Homo sapiens: one gene and its partners. The protein of the gene in region 4 purifies or fractionates together with the protein of the main gene of each other region. This does not show direct contact. Each region holds a gene or a part of one and is shown on either strand. Other genes may lie near its edges. The genes, in order: PPA2, PPA1, CGN, NAV1 and RIMS1.

The links.
Region 1: the proteins of NAV1 (region 4) and PPA2 fractionate together in Homo sapiens (co-fractionation; one large-scale study listed by BioGRID). This does not show direct contact.
Region 2: the proteins of NAV1 (region 4) and PPA1 fractionate together in Homo sapiens (co-fractionation; one large-scale study listed by BioGRID). This does not show direct contact.
Region 3: the proteins of NAV1 (region 4) and CGN purify together in Homo sapiens (affinity purification with mass spectrometry, with the first as the bait; one large-scale study listed by BioGRID). This does not show direct contact.
Region 5: the proteins of NAV1 (region 4) and RIMS1 purify together in Homo sapiens (co-immunoprecipitation; one large-scale study listed by IntAct). This does not show direct contact.

Annotation. Positions count from the first base shown.
Region 1 is NC_000004.12:105,471,109-105,475,862, forward strand, and holds the start of PPA2 (inorganic pyrophosphatase 2, mitochondrial isoform 1 precursor), read right to left. Parts: upstream 2,955-4,754; 5' UTR 2,943-2,954; coding exon 2,786-2,942; intron 1-2,785.
Region 2 is NC_000010.11:70,219,434-70,223,514, forward strand, and holds part of PPA1 (inorganic pyrophosphatase), read right to left. Parts: intron 1-4,081.
Region 3 is NC_000001.11:151,528,272-151,532,352, reverse strand, and holds part of CGN (cingulin), read right to left. Parts: intron 3,004-4,081; coding exon 2,794-3,003; exon of another isoform or gene 2,789-2,793; intron 2,445-2,788; coding exon 2,238-2,444; intron 1,865-2,237; coding exon 1,607-1,864; intron 1-1,606. UniProt on the Homo sapiens protein: Probably plays a role in the formation and regulation of the tight junction (TJ) paracellular permeability barrier.
Region 4 is NC_000001.11:201,821,648-201,824,899, reverse strand, and holds part of NAV1 (neuron navigator 1), read right to left. Parts: 3' UTR 1-3,252. UniProt on the Homo sapiens protein: May be involved in neuronal migration.
Region 5 is NC_000006.12:71,892,839-71,896,919, reverse strand, and holds part of RIMS1 (regulating synaptic membrane exocytosis protein 1), read right to left. Parts: intron 1-4,081. UniProt on the Homo sapiens protein: Rab effector involved in exocytosis. May act as scaffold protein that regulates neurotransmitter release at the active zone.

The DNA of each region.
Region 1 (4,754 bases), on a different chromosome or scaffold from region 4:
ATGAAACCCTCTGTTTTAACGAAAACCTAATAATATACCATGGGATGCTTGTGTTCAACTAAGCAGTCTGGAAAATGATCATCTGGTCCAATCTCCTCATTCCATGGTTTTAAAAAATGAGATGCAGGGAGGTGAAGTGACAGCAAGATACTAACAGGGTCAGGGCTGGCACCAAGGAGGCCTGATGATTCCCATCAGGATACCCTTTCCCCTAATCATCCTGTCTCACTCTTTCTACAAAGTTTAACACCAATTTTTTTTTAAGTATTACATCAATCATTTATTCTGATTTTACTGAATGACAGTAAAGAGAAACCATTTACAGACATGAAGCTCGAAAATGTTCTACCTCCCAATGCACTAGTATTTCAGAGACTTGGAATATATTTGGAGATGTGGAAAATGATTACACTTTAGTAACACTGAGTAACAATTTTAGGCCAAGTATACTACACTCATATTTTTTTTGAAGTGAGACATTAGTCCACCCTAGTACTGCATACAGACACACTGAGTAATAAATATCCAATCTGTGATCATCTTTATAAAGGGCAATTTATTCGTTGCTTTCCCCTTACCCCATTCGCCCTAGAGTGGCTTCGTTTCACTTTGCCCTACCCCTTCTAGCAGGTAGTAAACAGTCCTGGCCAGTGATGCCATCTGGCGGTTAGTTCAGAAATTGTTTAACCAACACACCTTCCAATCAGGATCTTACCATCGGGACCCTCTCCAAAACCACACTCCCCTTTCTTCCAGTTTTTGCCCATTTACCTTAGTAAAATCGGGTTTTCTTCTTTCCTGCCCTGTTTATCCAACTGAATGAAAAACGTATTTTATTTGTGGCACTCTAGTTACAGAAAAATCATGAGTCCTAAGTACATTTGCAGCTAAAGAAACAAACCAACAATAAGAGGCCAACATACTCCCAAAAATGCCCCCATTCGACATCCTGTCTTAACAGAGACTGTTAGAATCTCCGTTATTCATCCAATGCCTTCAGGGAATACCAGTGCTGAGAAGGACCTTGAGGATCATCGTTTCAAGGTCAAAAGCTTCATTTTACAGCTGAAGAAACTGGCTCTGTGAGAAAGAACTGAAGTAACCACCCACCCAACAGCACACAGCGAGTTAACGGCAGAGCCAAGATTATGGCCTAGGACTCCCCATTCCAAATCCGGTACTGGGTCAACTACTCTGTGCGCTCCTGGCTTCTCAAGCCTGTTTTTGCTCAACCAGTGTATTTACTTTTTCCATAATTATAGTAATATTGTGAATCTCTGTACTATGCCTAACAGTGTCTAGCACACTTCATAAATATTTATTATTTGGGTATCTATTAATTACCGTACTTATTGCAAATCTAGAATACTTGCAGTAGACAGGCCTTTTTTCAATCTGCTTAAAAAGCGAACTGCCACTTCATAATTTTTTCTGACTATTCCCATTAATCATCACATGGTAACCTTTTAGAACATAATCCATTCAGAAATTTGAGACTTCCTGTTCACCTGATCAGTCTTAACCAAAGATAGAAGAAAATATGTGGCATAGGGTGAAAACTGCAACCAATTTTGAAGAAAATAGAAATTCTAGTACTAGTTGCATTATAATCACACGACTTTAGGCAAACTCTTCTTTCCCACAAAATAATCCTCGACCCTAAACTCATGTAGCATAACTGCAAATCTCTCATAAATTACAAATATCTATAATGATTATCGGTATTAACAATAGTAATTTATATTTTAGGCCCTGTGACTAATCAGTTTACATATATAATGTCATGTAATACTTGCAGCCCTATTTTACGGATGAGAAAAAACAAGGCTTAGCAACTTAAACTCGTCCGGGGTCACAGAGTTAAGACGTGAAGAACTCGAGGGCCTGCTTAGAACTGAAAGCCTCCAGAGCCAGTGCTCCGAAAAGGGGAGCGATAATGCAAGGCCCACTTTGATACTACCACTCCAAGGCTCTGCAGTCAGTGGGGAGTGAAGGCAAGCGACCGACATCGCTATTTTCTGTTACGGTTAACGTACACAGTGAAACAATGGGGTACACGGAACAATGAGTCACGAAGACCTGGGTCCTTTCTCTGAGCTCGGCAACTCAGGGACCCCCCCGAAGTCGCTTAGCCTTCTGGGCTTGTTCAGCTTGGGGAGGAAAAGGGGCTGCTCCGGAACCAACGAGGCTTTGGATGGTGGATCACACTCAGGGTGTAAACTTGTGCGTACCAAGTCAAGCTTCTGGGGAAAGAACCTTCATCAGAGTCCCTCCAAAAAAAGAAGACGCGCTGGATTAGGCATCCGCAAAGTTCCGCCTGCCTCTCCGACGTCAGGGAGCTCCCGCAGTAGGAGGTTTCTTACGCCTCTAGGAAGGCCGGCGTGTGGGCGGGCTCTGCCTTCCCTTCCTCACTGAGTTGTGTGAACCGGGAACGGCGGCCGGGCCGGCTAATGGCTGCAGGCCGCCGCGGGGTGGCCGCTTGCACTCTGCCTACCCCTCGGGGAGGGCGGCTGGCAGGGCACAGGGCGCTATCTACCCCCCAGCCGGCAGCCCTGCGCCTCTGCTCTCCGCTTTGGGGTCTTGATCCGCCGCCTCCTCGCTGGCAGTTCTCGTGACTCGGTGCGCGCTCCCGCGGGAAGTAAGGTGGCCTGGACCGCGCGGCTACCGCTGAGGGCCCCAAAAAGAGAGAAGGGAGACCGCGCGGGGCGTCCCAAGTGTCCCCCATTCCATCCCCCACCCAGGTTTCTCCGGTGCGCCGCTCGGCGAACCTCCGGGAGCTACTTACTAAAGAAGAGGCGGTAATTCTGCGAGCAGGGCTGGCCGCGCTCCTCAGTGTGGTACAGGGCCATAGCACGGCGCGACCCGGTCCCTGCACTGGTCCCCAACCGCAGGCACGCAGCGGCTGGGGCACCCGTGCGCAGCAGCCGCAGCAGCGCGCTCATGGCGTCAATGACGGTCCTGCTGTGCGCGCGGAGCTACCTGGGGGCTCGGCCGGGCCGCACGCCGGTGCCCCCTACCGTCCGGAGTCATCCCTCCCGCCCCGGCGCTCGGGCTGCGATCCTGGTCCCTGCCAGTGGAATCTGGAACACCAGCCAGTTGTGCGCACTATGCCCTCAGCGAGGCCGCAGCTCAAAGACGAGTGAGACAAGACCCACCACCCCTGAAGAGCTCACTGCCACTCGTTAATTCATACATTTATTCATGCCTTCATTTATCCCGTCAAGAATTACTATCATGATTTTTTAGTATAGTGATGTAATATTGAGTGATTACTCTGTGCCAGGAACTGCTCTAGACCCTGTCCAATATAGGAGATGAGCGCACATGCACGCAAAGACATCACTATAAGACAAAATGATCAGGCCACCACGTGAAAACGGGACGTTGACACCGACTTACAGAGCAAAAAACCCTAAGTAGCTTACTCAAATGCCATCTTCTCCATAAGGCCATTTCCTAACCCAGTAGAGATTATTTATTCTTTCTTTTATTTTATTATTTTTTGTTGTTGTTTTGTTTTTGAGACGGAGTCTCACACTGTTGCCTGGGCTGGAATGCAATGGTACAATCTCGGCTCACTGCAACCTCCGCCTCCTGGGTTCAAGCTATTCTCCTGCCTTAGCCTCCTGAGTAACTGGGATTACAGGCATGCGTCACGACGCCTAGCTAATTTTTGTATTTTTAGTAGAGACAGTTTCCCCATGTTGGTCAGACTGGTCTCGAACTCCCGACCTCCATTGATCCGCCTGCGTTGGCCTCCCAAAGTCCTGGGATTACAGGCGTGAGCCACCGCGCATCGGCCAGGCGGGGTGGCACACACGCCTGTAGTTCCAGCTACTTGGGAGGCTGAGATAGGAGGATGGTTTGGGCCAGTATCCAGGAGAATGGATATTGTAGAACAACCAGTAGTCTGCCACGTGTCATTTTATTTTTTTCTAGTCCATCTTCTTTGGGACTATCATCATCTAGGCTACTTTCCTACTGGGCACCCAGGTTCTTTCAGCATCTCCAATTATCGTGTGATCATTAAAATTGAGATACTGGTCTACCCAAGTTCCAGAAAGGATTCCTAGGAGATATTGTGACTAGCTACTTAGAGACACTCTACTAAGATTATAGATCCTAAAATGTTTTTGTCAACAGTGGTACCTTTGTAATGTGTCAACTTGAATAGGCATAACTATAAGGCAAATGCTCCCATAAAAAGGAGAGAAAATCTCTTCTGTGCATATATCACAGAGTTGTATAATTTTTTTGTTTATGTTGAAAAAAAGCTTAATTTTTCTATTAACTTTTGAAGATTAGATATTTAAATAAGACAAATTCCTATGGAGGCAGGGTTGTAGGCTAATTTCTAATGATCTGTGGATACTTAAAGTATCCAGGCTGGGCGTGGTGGCTCATGCTTGTAATTCTAGCACTTTGGGAGGCCAAGGTGGGAGGATCACTTGATCCCAGGAGTTTGAGACCAGCAGTCTGGGCAACATGGTAAAACCCATCTCCATAAAAAGTACAAAAATCGGCCAGGCGGGGTGGCACACGCCTGTAGTTCCAGCCACTTGGGAGGCTGAGATAGGAGGATGGTTTGAGCCTAAGAGGCGGAGGTTGCAGTGAAGCCAAAATCATGCCATTGCACTCCAGCTTCTGCAGCAGAGCCACACCCTGTTTAAAAAAAAAAAAAAGTTATCTATTGAGATAATCCAGCATAAAGTTCTGAGGTCCCTCTTGCTAATAGCTTTTCTTAACTCTGGCAA
Region 2 (4,081 bases), on a different chromosome or scaffold from region 4:
TATAAGACAAACCCCAAGTCAGACTAATTACTTGATCATACTTTAGTTTATAAGACGAACCCCACATCAGCCTAATTACTTGGTCATACTTTAGTTTTAGCATCAAACAAAACTCATCAGCTTCATTATCCACATTATTCTCCCAATTCGGCTGTTTTTAGAAATAAAGCCCCCCTGAAAAGGACTTTGACCTTGAAGATAAGAGAATATGCTTTAAAAATATTTTAATCAATGATAGTTCTACTGTAATTGGCTTATAGCCTTAAACTGACTACTATAAAATAGATGATATATTCAGGGAGTAAATTCCCAGATGTGCAGTTTAAAAACACAATGAAAAAACAAACCATACTTTGCCAACCCATTTTGCACACTGGAGTTAAATATGCCATAGGTTATTTAATTAAACTTGAGCTTTAATTATTCAGAATACTATTTTTTTTCACGGAATAGAACTTTAACTGCAGTTTTTCAGTTTTTAGCCTCTACAAAGGGCACAGATGAAGCTAAATCTGCAATTACTGTTTTCTGTCACCCAGGCTGGAGTGCAGTGGCACAATCTTGGCTCACTGCAACCTCTGCCTCCTGAGTTCAAGTGATTCTACTGTCTCAGCCTCCTGAGTAGCTGGGATAACACAGGGGCGTGCCACTACACCTGGCTAATTTTTGTATTTTTAGTAGAGATGGAGTTTCGCCATGTTGGCCAGGCTGGTCTCAAACTCCTGACCTCAGGTGATCCACCCGCCTCAGCCTCCCAAAGTGCTGGGATTACAGGTGTAAGCCACCGCACCTGGCCTGCAATTATGCTTATAAAAAGTACTTTTTTTTTTTTTTTTTGAGACAAGGTCTCACTCTGCCACCTAGGCTGGAGTGCAGTGGTATGAGCTTGACTCACTGAAGCCTCAACCACCCTGGCTCAAGCAATCTTCCCATCTCAGCCTCCTGAGTAGCTGGAGCTACAGATGCATGCCACCACATCCAGCTAATTGTGTGTGTGTGTATATGTATATATGTGTGTGTGTGTGCGTGTATGTGCATATATATATAATTTTTATATATATTATATAATTTTATATATATAAATTATATATGTATTATATATAATTTTTATGTATAATATATATATAATTATATATATAATATATATAATTATATATTATATATAATTTATATATATATTATATATAATTTATATATATATAATATATATAATTTATATATATATTATATATAATTTATATATATATAATATATATAATTTATATATATATAATATATATAATTTATATATATAATATATATAATTTATATATATATAATATATATAATTTATATATATATAATATATATAATTTATATATATATAATATATATAATTTTTATATATATTATATATATAATTTTTATATATATTATATATATAATTCTTATATATATAATATATACTTTATATATACTATATATATAATTTATATATAATATATATAATTTTTATATATACTATATATATAATTTATATATAATATATATAATTTTTATATATATACTATATATATAATTTATATATATAACATATATATAATTTATATATATAATATATATATAAATTATATATATATATAATTTATATATATATATATATATTTTTTTTTTTTTTTTTTTGTAGAGATGGAGCTTTGCCATGTTACCCCAGACTGGTAAAGTACATTTTAAGAACTTAACTTAAAATGAAAATCACTTGGTTACACCACTCTTTAGAATTACTTCTTTGCTACTTTCCATCAAAAAACGGGAACTGATAAGCCACAAGGGAATAAGTCAAAGGTTTCAAGTCAATAATTACCTGCTGCTACCAAGCAGAAAAACTACACTGATTTTGATTCAAAAGTGTAGAACTTCTGTCATTTTAAGTTCCTGCTGAAACCATGGGAGACTAAAGCATCCATAGGTTTCTGCTCCAAGCCTCCTGATACCTCACTTACCCAATACAACATAAAAACCAAAAGAATGGAGATATTACTTAAATCTAGGACTGAAGAAACTGCTCTATCCCTGTTTCCCTCTAAAATAACCAGATGGTTTAGAAAATGTAACACTAATTATTAATCCTGGGTAGAAAACCTCAGAACCAATCTTTGACTAAATTTCACCTTGTCCACTAGGTTTTCAAGTATTTTGTCCACTTCTCAGGTGTAAAAACGAGAGATCTGTAGGTCTGTGAAAAGAACAAGTCAGGGCTTTCGGTTTCCAGCAGCAGTACCCTAAAGATTCACAAGATGGAGCTGTTACGACATGAAAGATCAACTGAAGAGCTCGCCAAGATTAGCTGTTAATTTCGTTAAAACACCACCAAATGAATACATTGCTTCAAGAAAGATATAGCAGATAGAGCTAAAATAACTAATTCAAAGTTTAGAAACTATATTGAACACTTTAATAGCAGTAAATGACAAATATGTATAGATCCTCAAAACAGTATTACCTAATAACATAAATCTACATAATTAATGGGAAGGAAAAAAATAACAAGGAAGAAAACATCCTTCAGAAAATGGTAAGAGAATTCTGCTGCGAACAAAAGCTTGAAGGTCTGGTGCTTTTTAGAAATTAGCTGGGTGAGGCCGGGGGGTGGTGGCTCACACCTGTAATCATAGCACTTTGGGAGGCCGAGGTGGGCGGATTATGAGGTCAGGAGATCGAGACCATCCTGGCTAACACAGTGAAAAACCGTGTCTACTAAAAATACAAAAAAATTAGCTGGGCGTGGTGGCAGGTGCCTGTAGTCCCAGCTACTCGGGAGGCTGAGGCAGGAGAATGGCGTGAACCTGGGAGGCGGAGGTTGCAGTGAACTGAGATCACACCACTGCACTCCAGCCTGGGCCACAGAGCAAGACTCCGTCTCAAAAAAAAAAAAAAAAAAAAAAAAGAAATTAGCTGGGCGAAAAACAACAAGGAGTACCTGCAAAAGCCAGAGTCAATTCATTGATTTTTTTCAACAAATATTTGTTGTGAACCACCAGGATGTGCCAGGCACTTTTCTAGGCTCCGAAGACTAGCAATGAACAAAATAAAAGTTCTTTTAACTCCCAAAGAGTTGGATTTCCAAATCAGGTACTTCCTGCTGGTAGCATTGGTGGTTCAGGGGTAGAATTCTCGCCTGCTAAATCAGGTACTTCCAGTTTGTAGGCCTCAGGCTACAGCTTGGGGTGAGTGACTCATCTGTAAAATCAATGTTTAGCACACTTTTTTTTTATTATTATACTTTAAGTTTTAGGGTATATGTGCACAAAGTGCAGGTTTGTTACATATGTATACATGTGCCATGTTGCATGTTGGTGTGCTGCACCCATTAACTCATCATTTAGCATTAGGTATATCTCCTAATACTATCCTTTCCCCCTCCCCCCACCCCACAACAGGCCCCGGTGTGTGATGTTCCCCTTCCTGTGTCCACGTGTTCTCATTGTTCAATTCCCACCTATGAGTGAGAAATGCGGTGTTTGGTTTTTTGTCCTTGCAACAGTTTGCTGAGAATGATGGTTTCCAGCTTCATCCATGTCCCTACAAAGGACATGAACTCATCATTTTTTATGCATGGAATACTAGCACACTTTCAAATGCATGTAGATGCTGTAGTAATACTTGTCTCAGCCAGGCGTGGCGACTAACGTCTATAATCCTAGCACTTTGGGAGGCAGAGGCAGGAGGACCGCTTGAGGCCAAGAGTTCAAGACCAACCTGACCAACATAGCAAGACCCTGTCTCTTAAAAAACATTTTTTTAAAGAGAGAGAGAGAGAGAGACGGGGTCTCACTCTGTCATCCAGACTGGAGTACAGTGACGCAATCATAGCTCACTGCAGCCTCCAACTCCTGGTCTCAAGCAATCCTCCTGCCTCAGCCTCCTAAGTAGCTGGGCCTACAGGTGTGCACCACCACACCTGGCTAATTGTTTTTTAATTATGTTTTTGGAGATGAAGTCACACTATGTTGAGCAGGCTGGTCTCTAATTCCTAGCCTCAAGTGATCCTCCTGCCTATGCATCCCTAGTAGCTGGGACTACAGGTGCAAGCCATCCTGCC
Region 3 (4,081 bases), about 50 Mb from region 4:
CCAGGCCCAGACTCCCAAGACTCTCCCCTAAGGGTCTCCTTCCTGACAAGGCAGCCCTCTCTTGCTCTTTCCTGGGCCTAGGTTCCTAGTATAGCTAATAGTTATATACAGATGTCTGGGTTCAAATCCTGGCTCTACCACTTACTGGTGACCATGTGCAAGTTACTTATCTCTCTGGGTCTCAGTCCCCCATCTGTAAAATGGGATTAAAAATAGTAACTATATCACAAGGTGTTGTGAGAATTACATTAGTTAATTATGTGAAGTTCTGTACTTACAACAGTGCCTGATACAAAGTAAGCCTTAAATGACCATTTCAGCAAACCCAAGGTGCCAATGATTATACGGCGTACCACTAAGAAAAATATGCCAATTAAACTATAACATACCATAAGGTATAAGACACAACTCTATTTCAGAAATGATAAAATGTGCATTTTTCATTGACAAATGATAAGATGTGCATTTTTCATTGACAAATGATAAGATGTGCATTTTTCATTGACAAATGATAAGATGTGCATTTTTCATTGACAAATGATAAAATGTGCACTTTAGAATTGATGTAACATATTACGTGTTTGCTCTTGCTTTACAAAAAGATTGGGAGGAGAACCTTAGCAGCAAAAGCAATTTATTTCCTTTTCTTTTTTCTTTCTTTTCTCCTTCCCCTCACCCAAATTTAAAATTCTACCAATGAAGATTTTTTTTTTTGACAGGCTCTTGCTGTAGCGCAGTGGGGCAGTCACAGCTCACTGCAGCCTCAACCTCCTGGGCTCAAGCAATCCTACGTCAGCCTTCCGAGTAGCTGGGAATACAGATGTCTGGGTTCAAATCCTGGCTCTACCACTAATTAGCAACCATAGGCAAGTTACTTATCTTCTCTGGGTCTCAATTCCCCATCTATAAAGAGAAACTGAGGAACAAGCCACCACAGCAGGCTAATTTTATTTTTAAGTAGAGACAGAGTCTTATTATGTTGCCCAAGCTGGCCATTGAAGATTCTTGTATTTAGGTTTTGTAGACTCCCAAGGGAGAATCCCAGGAGATGTTCTCCAAGAATGAAGACCATAAAGGAATAGGATGTAAGGGAAAGAGCAAAAACATGGAGGGGAGGTAGGAAGGATGCCCCTTCCAGAAGATTTGGTCTTGGTCTTCCTAACAATGAACTTGAGGAAAGCAAACATCACACATTCTTTTTTTTTTTTTCTTAAGACAGAGTCTTGCTCTGTCACCCAGGCTGAAGTGCAGTGGCATGATCTCGCCTCACTGCAACCTCCACCTTCCGGGTGCAAGTGACTCTCCTGCATCACCCTCCTGAGTAGCTGGGACTACAGGCATGAGCCACCAAGCCCGGCTAATTTTTTGTATTTTTAGTAGAGACAGAGTTTTGCTATGTTGGCCAGGCTGGTCTCAAACTCCTGACCTCGGGTATCTGCCTACCTCAGCCTCTCAAAGTGCTGGAATTACAGGAGTGAGTCACCGCACCTGGCCATAATCATCACACATTCTGACTAACCCCTCTCCCCCAAGCCCCTGTCCTCTCAGGCCAGCTTCTGGATGAGCTGGGCCTCTTCCTAAAGGCCCAGAATACCCCATGCCCCACCTCCTTGTTCAGTCGGTCCACAGTCCTGTCCAGCAAACGCTTCTGCTCCTCCAGCTCAGCCTTGCCTCGCCGGAGCACCTCCCGCTGCTTCCCTTCCTCCTCCAGGGCCCGGTTCAGTGTCTGCTGCTCCTGCCCCAGGCGGGCCAGCCCCCGCTGAGCCTCCTCTAGGCGTGCCTCCAGTGCCCGCTTGGCTGCTGCCAGACTCCCCTCCTCTTCCTGGGACGCATTCAGGGCCTCCTCCAGCTGCTGTTTCTCTGCCTGGGAGGTAGGGAAGCAGGGTTGGACTGAGAAAAGGTAAAACTTGGGTTCAAGTCATTTGGAGGTGGGTAGCTGGGCAGGAGAAAGGAGGTATTTATGAAAATGATGTGCAATGAAAACAGGCTCCTAGCAAAGAAATCAGGACACATAGAGCAAGCAAAGGGTGAGAAATAAGAAACAAAACTACCAGTGCAAAGACTGAACATTGGCGCCAAAGTATACACCAGGAAATAAACCCAAGGTTAACAGAGCAGGTTTGGGGAGGCAAAACAGATGCACACTAAGGGCAAAGTGAAACTGATGGCTAACTACTTAGCATAGGAGTATTTCACCAGGGCTGAGCAGAGAGGGCTGGGAGGGCAGAACCACTGACCTCCAGCCGCTGCAGCTTGTCCCGTAGTCGTGCCTCCACCGCTTCCCCACCATCCACCAGACCTCGAGTCTCCTTCAGCTGCTGCTCCAAACCCAGGATGCGCCGGCGGAATTCGTCATTTTCCTCCTGGGTCTCCCGAAGCGTCGTCTCCACTGCGGCCCGCCGCTGCCCCAGCACTGTTGCCTCTGCCTCGGCCACCATCTTAGCCTAAGGACGGTTCAGGGGGTGGCAGCTCAGACCCCAGGGCGTGGCAGCTCAGACCCCAGGGCTTGGGGCCATTGACCACACCCAGGAAAGCCATCCCAAAGACAGCCCATAAGAATGAGGCTTAAAGAGAGCAGCTGCCACCAGCCAGACGCTTCTCTGAGAATCCCACCCCTACACAGATACAGGTATCCTCCCCCTGCCAAATCCTGGCTTCTTTGAACCACATGCCTAGGACCCAGGAGCTGGTCAGTACATACCCATGACAGGTAACTTTCCACACCCTCTGGCTCCTCAGCCCTCCAGACACCCTCAGCCTCCACCTCCTAAGCCCTGTGCCCACTCCCCTTGCCTTGGAAGCCTCTTCACAGTCCTGTCGCAGTTGCTGGAGGGTCTTTTGTAGCTGGAGGTTCTGTTCTTCCAGCTCCCGACCTCGATCAGCCTCGACCCTCAGGACCGCCAGCTGCTTCTCCAACTCCCGGTCCCGGTGTCGCCCAGCCACCTCCTGGCTCTGCCGTTCTGCCTGCAGTTCCTTAAGCTCCTCCTGTGTCCGGAGCAGCTCCTGGAAGGAAACGGGAATGGTGATGGGGCACCCAGAGCCAGACTAAGATACCTGAATGTGGAGAAGCTGAAACTCTCATACACTGCCAAGGGAATAAAAACTGATGTGGCCACTTTGGAAAGTAGTTTGGCAGTTTCTCAAAAAGTTAAACACAGATTTACCATTTATATCACCAGCAATTCCACTCTTAGGTAACCCAAGAGAACCGAAAATATGTGTTCACAAAAAAACTTATACGCGAATGTTCATAGTAGCATTATTCATTATAGCCCAGATGGATACACAACCCAGATGTCCACGAATTGATGACTGGACTAAACACGGTATACCCACAGAGTGGAATGTTATTCAGCCATAAAAAGGAATGAAGTACTCATACTTGCTACCACATGGACAAACCTTGAAAACACTATGCTAGGTGAAAGAAGCCAGACCCTTAAGGCCCATATATTATAGGATTCAATTATATTAAATATCCAGAATAGGTAAATCCAGAGACAAAAAGTAGATTAGTGGTTGCCATTGGGTGGGGGGAATTATTGCTAATGGGTTTGGCGCCTTTGAGGGGGTAATGAAAATGTTCTGTAATTAAATAGTGATGATGGTTGTACAACTTTGTTAATATAATAAAAACCACTGGGGGCCAGGCGCCAGTGGCTCATGCCTGCAGTTTGGGAGGCTGAGGCGGGTGGATCACCTGAGGTCAGGAGTTCAAAACCAGCCTGGACAACATGGTGAAACCCTGTCTCTACCAAAAATACAAAAATTAGCCGGGCGTGGTGGTGTGTGCCTGTAATCCCAGCTGCTTGGGAAGCTGAGGCAGGAGAATGGCTTGAACCAGAAGGCAGAGGTTGCAGTGAGCCGAGATTGTGCCACTGCACTCCAGCTTGGGTAGCAGAGTAAGACTCCATCTCAAAAAGAAAAAAAAAACCCATTGGATTGTACACAAAGATGACTTTTATAGCATGTAAAATATAACTCCATAAAAAAAAAAATACCATGAAGGGAGAGTACATGAAGGTATGGCTAGTAAGGCTGGTTGTTTAAAAAAAATACAGTGTGAGGCTGGGTGCGGTGG
Region 4 (3,252 bases):
AACGTGGATTGCCGGGTCCTCTCATTAGAGTTTCTGATTCAGCAGATCTGGGATGGGATTGAGAATTTTCGTTTCTAACAAGTTCCCAAAGGCTGCTGATGCTGCTGGTCTTGTGCCATACTTTGCGAACCACTGCTTTAAGGAATGAGAAACCAGGGGATCACTCACTTACTTCCATGACCACCCTTGTCACAGAAAATTCTCCATGGTATAATCATGAAGAAGAATGACCAAACCATCAAACTGGAAGGATCTAGTATACACAGGTTGAATTTTCAACCGTCTTCGTGTCCCTGCAGCTTTGGCATTTTGATAGGTATCCTCCCTTCAAGGCTACATCTTCTGGGTTACTACCACCTTTCCCAGGATCTGTGGCCGGCAGTGCTCACTTCCAGGGCTAGGCTGAGCAGACATGCACCCATGCACCCTGGTGGCCCCATATATCCGTAGTCAGGTTGATTCAGGACTTATTAAAATATAAGGCTGATTGGATTATAAGGGGCAATATCTTCAGGCTTTGGCCTTTGGGGAACAGTGTTCATAAGATCATTTTATTACTATGGCCTTCTCAGTGGAGCCATGAGCCAGAACTTGTGAGTAGTATATCCATCTCTATTAATAAACCCTCTGCAAAAGCCCATTTTTCCATCCCATCACAGGGGTTGGCTTATGAAGTCGGCTTCTTAACTTTAGCTTAGTCAGTGCCAAGGAATAAGGAAAGCAAAAATAAAGTATGATGAGGAACTGCGCTTGGTGATCTGGGTCACTTCAGCACTTATTCCCTGTGTTAAATGTGTGATTAGGACAATTCCCCCGCCCTCTCCAAATAATGGCAATAAAGAGTTCTTAAGGTCTCATGCAGATATCTTCTTGACCTTGATTTGGAGGACTGAGTCCCCTTCAGTCAGGCAAATTTTACCTAAATGCAGGGTTTCTATGTGGATGCCATCCCAAGTGAGGATGTGAGGTGTCTGTGAGAAGCAGCAGGCTACCATTTCTCTCTTCCTACTCTTTTAGAATACTTTAGGAAATAGTTACTCCTCAGACCACTGTAAGGGGTTATCCCTCTGAGTAGTGTGACCCTTGTTTCAGAGAGCTAGAAGTGAAGAGATGGTGAGATTAGGTACACTTAGTCTTGCAAACCAGGAAAACCAGAAGGCAAGACATTAAGAGAGAAAAAGAAGCCCTCTATTTTGTCTTTAGTACTTAAGGAATATGGATAGATCAGTTGGAAAGTTGGCAATTCAAGACTAAAACAGTATACCAACCAATGAACATTTCATTGTAGGGTCTTCCCATGGACTTGTAGCAGATTTGTCTTCCCTGCCAGCCTCTACCTTCCCAATGGTTAGACATGAAAAAGACATGGGTACTTAAGGATTGACACAAAGACAGAGATAAGCACCGTAGAGCTGCCACAAAGCATAGATTTTAAAAAATACTTTGAAGCCTCAGAAGGTAGGAAACAGCAACAGCAAACTGCTCTTGTGTGTGTGAGAGAGGGAGACACACACACACACACACACACACACACACGCAGACATCAGGTCCCACATTAGCCTCCAATGACCTAGTATTTTATTTTTAGTGCCTAGGCAAGGTCTGAGAAACAAATACATTGGACAAAACTTGTTGGTCTTCTTCATCCAGAAATTAAGGGACTCAGCTCAGGAACCTCTCCTGGAGTTGTGGCTCTCCCCATTGGTTGACATTAGATATTGAATTCATGTCATTTCCTAGACAACTGTGGTGAGGGATGGAGTTGGGGGGCTGGAGAGGAAGATAATAGCACAAATTCCAGTATTAGGCTGGATTCTTCTGAAGGTGCCTGGCGGTTGAGAATTTAGCTATGGGACCCAGTGTTTCTTTTCTGAAGGATCCCAGTAGTCTCAACCAAGAAGCAGGACGTAGGTGGGAGAGAATGCTGTAGATTTGCTCCTTGCCATAAATTCTAGGGCAGTGAGTGGGGAGCTCAGGTTTTCTGCTTCAGAGAAGTCTGGATGAGTGTCCCAAGGGGTTATAGCACCATGAGGAGGCTCAGCCTTCTGCAGTTGCCATATAACTGTGATTCCTTCATGAGAATGATCAATCCCCACAGTGAGGGGCCCAGATGTGCAACTGTAAACAGGGTCCCAGGCTCCAGAGGGAAAGCCGAGGCTTCAATACTACCTCACTAGACGGGAACACACTTTCTGGAGGAAAGCAATTGGAGACCTGGCCTAAATGCAGCAGTCAGCTGAGAGTAGAGGGTGGTGGATCCCAGGAAGAGAAATAAAAAGTCATAGCATGAGGCCTCCAGAATCAACCTGCTGAGGATCCAAATAAAATTCATGGTGGTATCCATGGTTACCAGAGAGCCAAGAATCCCTTTGGGGTCGGAGGCAGTTGGAATGAAAGAAGGGGTTCTCCCCTCTCCTTTTTCTCAAGTAGCCAGTAACATCCATGGCAGAAGGCACTGGCTGGGCAGCACCAGAAAATAGAGTGAAGCGCTCAACCATCAGATTAAGATGGCATTAAAAGTCTGAGCCTTGCCATGGAACTGGAGCTTAGGATAGGGTTTAGAAGAGGCCTAGATCCCAAGCAGGCCCATCCAGTCTTCTCTTCCTTCTAAGTTAGAACAGCCAGCTCGGGGGCCTCCTCATTCTGCACAGCAGAGACCTTAAGGCAGTGATTTCAGCACCATCCTTGGACACACAGCCTCTTCCCACCACAGAATTGCATATGTTACAGCTGAGTTGGTTAGGGATCTTCACAGCTCATGGAATTAGCAGCAATAGCAATAATAGTCTCCATCATACAGAACCCTGTCATCCATGGGAGCTTACCACGTGGATGCAGAAGCTTTTGTGAGGGGCAGCCCGGACCATCTTTTGGACTTAATATACCGATATGAAGATTCAGATGCATCTACTCCTCGGTTGGGTGGAAGAGTGATCCAGGTTGGTATGCCTATAGATTCTGATAAAGTCTTGTGCTACTTAGGAATCTGAAGAGCAAACACTTAGGCCGGTGCTCATCACATATCCTTGACCTGCAGAGTCCTGAAGCTTCAGCCTACTAGGCAGCTCAGCCTAGAAGCTGGTCCCGCGGGGCTTTCAGAAATGGCAGGAAGTAGACTTGCCCATTCCTGACAAGCAAGATTCCATAGTCCTTCAGGCTCCATCTTAATTGATCCCAGATCTTCTGCCCCCAATGTATTGTACATCTAATCAAAAGCTTCTTTCTAGCTGGCTCCTTGGGTTTCAGCTACAT
Region 5 (4,081 bases), on a different chromosome or scaffold from region 4:
CATTGACATATACATGGTTGGAGCCATTGACGGAGATACACAAGGAACTGCATATAAAATGGGAGAATATGGAGAATAGGACCCCATGAGAACGCCAACATCTGAGATTCAAGAGAAGATAAAATAGAAGCATTTAGAAACATTGAAGGCAAATCAAAAGGATATGGAATTATAGAAGCAAGGGCAAGAGGGAGCTTCAAAAGATTCTTCACCTCTTATCATAACCACCACTCAATTTGCACTATTTTGTGTTCTTGAGTATTTAGTCTTTTCCCAAAGTGCGTATGTCATATTTTTTTTAATTTGCACAACCTTACTAGCAAAAGTATCTGCTTCTTGTGGCCTGGTACCATGTTTATTTCTCTTCTATTGCATGTGGACCTCCTATAGCCTTTAACTATGCTGCATTTATGGAAGTCAGGGACTAGATAGCCCCTGGACTGATTATCCATCATAGTTGTACCCAATAGTGACTGTTAAAGCTTAGGCTTTTGGAGCTCTAAATACCATAAAATCCCTTTCTAATGCTTGTGTCTGGCATGATACTTAGACCATAATATCTTTTTCAGACTAGCATCAAGTTTTTACTTCAGGTTGCTATATATTAGGTGGCTAGATTTGACCTAGGGTATGCAGACAGCTGTAAATTGAAATATCCATTCTCAATATAAGAAGACTTTACTGTATTTTATTTTTCAAAATTACACTTTTATGAAAACTGTCACAATCATGAATAATATAAAATTAGAATCTCTTTAGGATTTTGGATCTTACTAAAATTTCAATATCTAAAATAAATGAGACTGTTCATTTCAATATCCCTTTATTCCAGATACTAGGATGTAAAATGTCTTCATTTTTTCCCAGAAACAAAGGGGTTAGGAAAGAAGGCTTAAGCTCCAATATATTGCAATACAGAGATAGCCAAGGAAGATAAATCTGCTAAGCTGTGTGAAATATAAAAGGAAAAGCCATTTGGTTACTTTACTTTTGTTTTCATCTCTTTCTACCAATACGCTAAGTAATCTTTCTGACCTGGATAGAACCTCTAAATGTGGATATATACTACCATATAGTTAAAGAAACCCAATACATTGATTTTTACATACCCTAGGTACTTCATATACAATCTGCCTATTTTTTCCAGAATAAAAACCACATAAATTGAAAACAAAACAGCTAGCAGCTAGACATCCTATCAAAGAGTTTCTTTCTTTCCTTCTTTTTTTTTTTTTTTTTTTTTTTTGAGAGGGAGTCTTGCTCTATCACCCAGGCTGGAGTGCAGAGGCACAATCTCAGCTTACTGCAACCTCCGCCTCCCGGGTTCAAGAAATTCTCCTGCCTCAGCCTCCCAAGTAGCTGGGATTACAGGCATGCATCACCACGCCGGCTAATTTTTTTATTTTTAGTAGAGATGGGGTTTCGCCATATTGGCCAGTCTGGTCTCAAACTCCTGACCTCAGGTGATACGCCCTTCTCAGCCTCCCAAAGTGCTGGGATTGCAGGCGTGAGCCACCGCACCCGGCCTCAAAGAGTTTCTTGTTACATTGGTTAAAAGCTGTGTTTAAACAACAAAAACAATAATATGGCACACAATGCTTGTGCACCAATAACTTACAACTTTAAAATATATTCTTGAGATTAAAAATAGTCTTCAAATATTAAGCAATACTGCTTTAAGTACAGAAAGCCATATGTAGGTATGTAAATTGTGAACTAATCAAATGGACGATGTAAAGTCCAGCAAATACAGCAAGAAAACTCCATCAAGATTACTACATTAGTTTCCACTTGTGAGTGTGTATATTATGCATGAGAGTCCATTAAAAGAAGCTAAGTAGTGTAAGACTTTTATATGACAGTACAGATATCTTAATTGGTTTTCAATTTACATACCTTCTCTATGTAAATATACTATCATCTTCCAGATGATAATTAAATTACCTGGCATAATGATGGGTAATACAAACAAATACTAAATAATGTATAAATCATTAGCATGGTATTATTTTCTATATTACACAAAATATCTTTCATTCATTATGCTTTAAAATAGCTAATATTATAATTAAGTGCATTGATTACTTACATATTGCATGAAATTACTTTCTATAACATTACCTTATTTTACTATCTAAACATCAGAGGAATTATCAAAATATTACAAATAACATGCAATTACTTTCTGTAACATTACCTCATTTTGCCATCTAAACTCAGAGGAATATCAAAATATTACATCCCAAAATCTATTTAAATAAATTCTCACACATTAAAGATGTCTTTGGTAAACTGCAGGCTGCTCTTTGCAAGGCTCAAAGGAGAATTCTCATAAAGACAGTCCTGTATGAAGTCGCAATTCATAACTACTATTATTTGAAAAATGTTTTGAAATTTTAAATTCAGCTTTGCCATAAAAAGCATCATTCTGTTGAGATTCCATAAAAGAGAATACCTTATTTCCTTTTTTTTTTCAGACAGAGTCTCACTCTGTTGCCCAGGCTGGACTGCAGTGGCAGGATCTCAGCTCATTGCAGCCTCTGCCTCCTGGTTTCAAGCGATTCTTCTGCTTCAGCCTCCTGGGTACCTGGGATTACAGGTGCACTCCACCATACCAGGTTAATTTTTTGTATTTTTAGTAGAGACGGGGTTTTACCATGTTGGCCAGGCTGGTCTCAAACTCCTGAGCTCAAGTGATCCACCCGCTTTGGCCTCCCAAAGTGTTGGGATTACGGGAGTGAGCCACCACGCCTGGCTGATAATACCTCATTCTCAGAAAAAGTGTTCTCCATTTACCAAACAATGATCAAGATTTTATATCTACCACTTGCTTGCATTACTTATTGTTGAGATATATTTTAACACTGTTAATTGCTTGATTTTCTGAAGTTATAAATGAAGAATTTGGGGAAGAGAAAGCAAGATTTAAAAAGAGGAAGACAATATAATTTGTCATCCGGGTTGAAACTCAAAATTGAGAGAAGGGGTTACCATACATAATAATAGCAGGAAATTGGTATAAACAGATAAAGGAAAATCAACATGTACAGTCACCTTCCTTTTAAACAGCTCTATTTTGCCTTTAAGTAAGCATTCGTATGAACAGGAAGTTTTCACAATATTGCAACAGAAGCAGAAACATCTAAAATCAATTCTGCAGAATAACCCCCTCTTGCTGTCCACAGAAAAGTAATCTAGTCAAAATAAGTGTATATAAACTCGATGTAAGAATGTGAGAATATAAATACAGAAAACCTAAGGCATCCAATAAAGAATCTTAAAAAGTTCTTAAACACATGCAATTTATTACATCACTCAATGGTAAACTGACATGAAAGAAAACTACCTGACAAATATACATGACCCCTTATTCAGCTAATTCTGAAAATGAAGAATTTATTAAACCCAGTGACACTAAAATTATTACTGTATTTCTCCAAATTTTTTTCTGTAAAAGATGAGGAAATTACCCCAAGCTAATTTCTCTTCTCATTTTTGAATTAGGATTGCCTTTTAGATCTTTCAAACTTTATCACTTTGCCCACATTGCTTTTTGTGCTAAAAACATGTACGAGCTATTTAATGAGAGGGGAAAAAAAAAAAGAAAAGAAAGAAGGTAAATATAGTCTCAGACCAAGCCCTGAACTCATTTTACCTTTTAACTCCTTGTCAAATTCTCACACTGGGAGCTGCAACCCTGGCAACACTGCATTGCTAGCATGAAAGGATAGGTGGGCTCTTCTCCAAGAGCTCATCTTCCCAAGCCCCCTAGTACCTTCAAAGACTACTGGAAAATATAATCTTGGTGTTCTACAGTTTTAACAAATAAGCATAATAATGGCACCTTTCTTGGAAACAGCAATTTGGAGGATATGATGACTCCACTATCATTTTAAAGCTTCACAGATTAGAAGGACTGCCATTATAAATTCCACTTTACATATAAAATCTGATGCTTGGATGGATTATCTTGACAATGTTCACACCTATAAAAAGTCATAATGTTAAGACCAGAATCTAGTCCAGTGTTCTATCCAACTATCCAGCACTCACCTCTTTTTCTGACTACGGCAGTTTTAAA